2 separate regions of the Homo sapiens genome follow, and region 1 is linked to region 2. A link means that fine-mapping ties the variant in region 2 to the expression of a gene that starts in the linked region. Tissue or cell type: whole blood. Region 2 holds a variant in brackets; the other region holds the start of a gene. All regions are shown on one strand. Distances are between the middles of the regions. Region 1 holds the start of SLC2A1 (solute carrier family 2 member 1). Region 2 overlaps SLC2A1 (solute carrier family 2 member 1).

What was found.
Region 1: it holds the start of SLC2A1, and the variant in region 2 is fine-mapped to the expression of SLC2A1 in whole blood (TOPMed, PIP 0.97).

The regions. Positions count from the first base shown.
Region 1 is chr1:42,957,562-42,960,463 of GRCh38, reverse strand. It overlaps SLC2A1 (solute carrier family 2 member 1), which reads left to right and starts at 1,596. Exons shown (of 10, transcript NM_006516.4): 1 at 1,596-1,830. The coding sequence starts at 1,813. SLC2A1-DT (SLC2A1 divergent transcript) reads right to left here and starts at 1,415. Exons shown (of 4, transcript NR_033967.1): 1 at 887-1,415. RefSeq lists silencers at 1,240-1,423, 1,296-1,705, 1,836-2,475.
Region 2 is chr1:42,936,635-42,939,536 of GRCh38, reverse strand. The region is part of intron 2 of SLC2A1 (solute carrier family 2 member 1); the gene reads left to right. Among named protein-coding and RNA genes, the nearest start is that of SLC2A1, 21 kb to the left of the region's middle. RefSeq lists an enhancer at 2,655-2,724. The variant C/T (reference allele first, on the strand shown) is at 1,532.

The sequences.
Region 1 (2,902 bases), 21 kb before region 2:
GGTTTCCGACAGACAGTAAGCCCACCATGACTCCCTCCATCGGGAAAGGGACCCTCAAGACTTTGATCAGACCTTTGGACTGGGGGTCCTTCCCTTCACTGTGTCTCAAGTAAGGCACTGGTCTAGAGGAAATAAGGTGAAGTCAGATGATAGCAATACCACTACCAGTGCAGTGGCACATGCCTGCACTCCCAGCTACTACGGAGGCTAAGGTGGGAGGATCACTTGAGCCCAGGAGTTTGAGACCAGCATTTATTTATTTACTAACAGACTAAATAAATAAACCAACAATACCACCAACCAGTAAATGAGAACTTCCATGCTAAACACTTCATGAGCTTATCTGGAAATTGCACCTCTCCTGATAGCAATGAGATTGGTGTGGGAATTCCATTTACTCATAAGAAGACAGCCTCGGCCGGGCTCAGTGGCTCACGCCTGTAATCCCAGTACTTTGGGAGGCGAGGTGGGTGGATCACGAGGTCAAGAGTTCAAGACCAGCCTGGCCAAAATGGTGAAACCCCGTCTCTACTAAAAATAAAAATAATTAGCCAGGGGTGATAGCGGGCGCCTGTAATCCCAGCTACTCGGGAGGCTGAGGCAGAGAACTGCTTGAATCCGGGAGGCGGAGGTTACAGTGAGCCGAGATCGTGCCGCTGCACTCCAGCCTGGGCGACAGAGCGAGACTCTGTCTGAGAAAAAAAAAAATTAAAGAAAAAAACGAAAACAGCCTCACTGGCCAGGAACTCGCCCAGGATCGCGGCCGGGCCAGTATACAGTTGAGCTGGTTCAAACCCGAGGTCTATCATGTCCTTAATGTCCTATCATGTCAGTCAGTTAGCCTGCCTTTCATATTTTCCACACTTACAGGTCACCATAGACTCACCTGAACTGTGAGAAGTAGAGGAAGGCGTCCCAGAGGAGGTGATTTTAAAGCCCAGGTTTGAGATGGGTATGCATTTCCAGGCAAGAGAGCCCGGCCGGTGCAAAAGCAAGGCTTGGCTCACAAACGGGAATGTGGGGGGTGGAGACAGGGAAGGGAGAAGTCAATCCCTGGGCAAGACCTCCTGGAGTCTCTCTAACAAATAAATACTACTTTCCATGCAGTAGACGCTGTTCTAAACACTTTACAAATATTAACTCACTTGGTCTTTCTACAACCCTACGAGGTGGTACTGTTACTATCCCTAGTGCACCGAAGTCACCCAGCGGCCGAGTGAGAACTCCAGTCCAGCTTTCCACCCGCTACTCCGCGCATCCCAGCTTGCCTTACAGCCGGGTACCGGCTCCACCATTTTGCTAGAGAAGGCCGCGGAGGCTCAGAGAGGTGCGCACACTTGCCCTGAGTCACACAGCGAATGCCCTCCGCGGTCCCAACGCAGAGAGAACGAGCCGATCGGCAGCCTGAGCGAGGCAGTGGTTAGGGGGGGCCCCGGCCCCGGCCACTCCCCTCACCCCCTCCCCGCAGAGCGCCGCCCAGGACAGGCTGGGCCCCAGGCCCCGCCCCGAGGTCCTGCCCACACACCCCTGACACACCGGCGTCGCCAGCCAATGGCCGGGGTCCTATAAACGCTACGGTCCGCGCGCTCTCTGGCAAGAGGCAAGAGGTAGCAACAGCGAGCGTGCCGGTCGCTAGTCGCGGGTCCCCGAGTGAGCACGCCAGGGAGCAGGAGACCAAACGACGGGGGTCGGAGTCAGAGTCGCAGTGGGAGTCCCCGGACCGGAGCACGAGCCTGAGCGGGAGAGCGCCGCTCGCACGCCCGTCGCCACCCGCGTACCCGGCGCAGCCAGAGCCACCAGCGCAGCGCTGCCATGGAGCCCAGCAGCAAGGTGAGTCGCGCGCCCGCGGGCCCTCCCGCCAGGAACAAAGGCGCAGACTCCTGCCCGCCTTACGCCGGCCAGGGCCTCCCCCGCCGCCCCGCTGCGCTGTGCGCCCGGGGCGGGCCGCGCGCCTCTCCGAGCCTGGCTCGGTGCGGGTCCCGAGCGCAGCGCCCCGCCGGGCCGCTGGCCGCAGTGGGGATGGGCTTCGGATCTAGCGGGCCGGAGGGCGCCGCGTGCGTAGTTGGCGCCGGCACTGAGCACATGGCCTCCTTCCGGGGGCGCCGCGCCGTCCACGCGGCCCTGCTGGGGCTGGGGACACAGGGCCCGGGAGCGGCACGTCGCACACGACCTCGGCAGCAGCAGCCCAGCCTCGGCCCCTCCCGGTGCGGGGGAGGGGGCCCGAGCGCGGCGCCCATTGGCTGAGCGGGCCGAGCCCCCGGCCCGGCCCCGGCCCCGGCGCGCGGAGGAGTCAGGAGCCGCCCCCGCTCTCCGTCTGCTCCCCTAGCCCGGACGCCCCTGTAGGTGGGCGGCCTGGTGCGAGGTGTCCCACCGGCCTCCCCTACTCCTCCCGCCAGTCCCCCGCGGTGACGAGGCCGAGGCCGAGGGGAGGGCACTTTTCTCCAGGCCCGGGCTCGAACGCGGGGGTTGAGATGAACCTCCGGTCTCGGAGGCTCTCCTTTGCGAGGAGTGCAGGCCCCAAAGCTTTGGCCCAGTCTCGCGGAGATGTGTTCCGCGGAGGCAGGTTTACCCTCGGGGCCAGGCGGGGAGCGCAACCGGAGGGGCGGGGGATCTGGGGGCCAGGAAAGAGCCCCAGGCTGAAGTCTAGCGGGAAGCGCGCACGCCACGGGGTTGGGGAATGAGGGATGGGGACTCTGGGGACCAACAACTCCCTAGATAGGATTTCTTTTTTTCTGTGTAAGTGGGCTTGTCCTGCAGGGCATCTTTGTAGCGTCCGCAGAGCGATTTCTTTTCAACAAATTGTTTGTGGAGCCCCTCCTGTGTGTAGGGCATTGTTTCTTTCCACCTCCTTTCCTCCCCCTAGTCTACAATATTTTCAAGTCCCCTTTTTCTTTTGAAACGG
Region 2 (2,902 bases):
AGGGCATCACGGGGCTGGTCAGCAGCACAGAGGGCCCAGATGAGCCTGTAAACTGCATTCATAGGACCATGTATGGTCACCTGTCCAAAGGTCACTTCAGGAACCAGCCCCAGCAGACCGAAGCTGGAGATGTGAGTGGCCAGAACTGAGAACGCTGAAATCTAGCGGTGTTTCTTGGGCAAGCACCCAGACACTTGGTCTGTTGACTTTTGTACTTTACAAACACTTCTCACAAGGCTGGCTGTAGTTTTTCCAACCAGGAGCCAGATTAGAAGTGATACATGTAACATGTGAAGAGAGGACAGAAGGACCCAAGAAGAAGAAATGAAAGTGAGGCTCAGAGCCCATGTGTAGTAACAGGGCAGAGAGACTCCTGTGCCCGCGTAGGCTGAAGGCCTGCCCTAGGGCGACACAGAGATTCCATCTGGCCAACCCTTTCATTCAGCCAGGACTTCCTGAGCATCCACGCTGTGCCAGATGCGGTCCTAGACAGTAAGGAGAGAGAAGTATAGCTGTGAACACAGCAGGCACATGCTGGCCCTCAGGGAGCTGCCTGAGACACAGTCTGAGCCAGGCCCTGTCTCCACAGCAGTGGGAGAGACCCCTTGGAGAAAGCCAGAGTGTCACTAACAGAGGGCTTCAAGGTGCTGTGAGAGCAAACGGGGCAACTAATGCTGGGGCTGGGGTGACAGGGGAGATTAAAAAAAGGGCTTCACGAAGGACTTGGCAGCCATGCTCGACCTTGAAGGGTTAGTTGACCTCATAGGGCAGGAGGGGCAGGTGTCTGGGCAGTGAGAGGGGCTTCTGCAGAGGTGCAGGGGTGTGAAATGTTCTGCTGATGCGGAATTGCTAACTGCCTGCAGTGGGCACACTGACTTCCCTTGTCTGTTTAGAAGAACCTCTCTTAGGAAACAGCATTGGGTTGGCCACAGTTTGCCTACTCTTGAGAAGAGACTTTGCCCCACAAGTGGTGAGGATGCCAGAAGCTTGTTCTCTTCCATAAAACAGGCCCCAAAGGGCTTCCTCCTGGAAGTGGTTAATTAATCATACTACCTTATATGTTTACAAAGCACCACCCCATAAATTACCACCTCACAGCAACTCTACAAGGCAGGCGGGGCTGACATCTTCCCCTCTTCTAAATGAGGGAACTGAAGCCAGATGAGGTATCTGGAGAGTGAGAGGCTGAGCTAGAGGTGGGCTCCAGGCCTTGTGCCTCCCCAGCTCTGCACACTGCCCCTGCCCTGCTGTGAGTGTGACAGGACATTCCTGCCATGCATCCCCTCCTGGAGGAGGAGGACAGAGCAGAAGAGGTGAGCCCAGCCACAGAGGGAGCAGCTAAATGAACCAGGGAATCCTGACCATCATACTGGGCTCATCCGAGCACTGCCTTTCCCCTCCCCAAATGACTGAGCTGCCAGTAGAGATGACTGACGGCCACTGAGAAACCATGAAGTCCTGGCCCAAGGGACAGTGTCAGGCATGTCTGAGAATAAGGCATCCTCAGAATCCAGAGTTTGGGCCAGAAAGG[C/T]CTCAGTTGTTTGACAAACAACACTCCTTGTTTGACAAAGGAGGAACCTGGTCTGCAGAGGAGGTGAGGTCTGCCCAGGATGACCCAGCTTGGTGAGTGAAAGAGCTGGAGGCAACACCCGCCTCCCAACCCAAGCCCTGTGTCCCGTCAGGCTGAACTGGGCTTCGTGCTCTAGGCAGCCTCTCCTTCTCTCTCCTATATCCAAAGAGTTCTAGTCCTCTCTCCCCTTCACCCGTCACCACTACCATAAACCCTTACTGCTTACTTATAGCTTGCCCAGGCATTGTTATACATACTCTAGAAATAGTAATTCAGTTGTTCTTCAAAATAACCCCATTAGGCAGACACCATAATTTTCCCTGCTCTATAAGAAACTGGGGCACAGGAATGTTAAGCAATTAAAGCAAGGACACACAGCTAGTAAGTGGCAAGGCTGCAATGTAACTCCGGGGAGTCTGGCCCTAGTCTGTGCCCTTGACCATTGTGGAAGATGGACACAGTCCCAGATGGGCACCTAAACACCCTTTCACTCACCTACAACTGCCACCTAGCTGGCAGTGTGTGGTCTCACTTTGGAGCTGAGTCAAGCTCAGTCATGTACCAACATCTCAGGTTTCCCACACACAGTTGCACAATCTCTTACACCATCACACCCTGTCATATCACATCACCCCTCAAGCCCTTCAGTTAGATTCATGGCTTGTTGGTCATTTAGTGTCAACTCTGCACCTCCACCACCGTGCTGGGCACCAGCAACATGGATGCATCAGACAGACCATCTCCGTGCTGAGGTTTACTGTACAGGGAGCACACGGTACCTTACAGTTAGTCTTCTAAAGGCGATGATGGAAATGCGAGCAAGCACAGTGGGAGCAGGGAAGGAAGAGGGAGAGGGTGCTTCGCCCTTAGAGCAGGGTTTCTCAGCTTGGCACTGTGATGTTTCTGCTGGTGTTGTAGAGGCCTGTCCCATGCATTGGAGGATGTTTATCAGCATCCTTGGCTTCTGCCCTCTAGATACCAGTAGCCAGTGTGGCAACCAAAAATGTCTCTGGGCATTGGCAGATGTCCTATGGGGTACCAAAGCCGTCTCTGTTTGAGAACCAGTTGCAGTGGAGTGGGAGGGGTGGTTCTCGGGAGGAAGGCTTTCCAGAGGAGTATCTGTGCATGTTCTGAAAGGTGATTAGGCCCAAGCAAAGGTGTGAGGTGTCTAGGTCGTATGAGGGAGTCACTGCGTGTGCCTTGTGAGTCATAGTTGGGGTAGAGGAGACACTTTATTGCAAGAGCTGAGAAGGGCTTCGGGTGTGGCCACGGCAGTGGGATGATTCCTCTGTCTACCGGGAGGCCTGGCCTGGCCTGGCCTTGGTTTGGAGG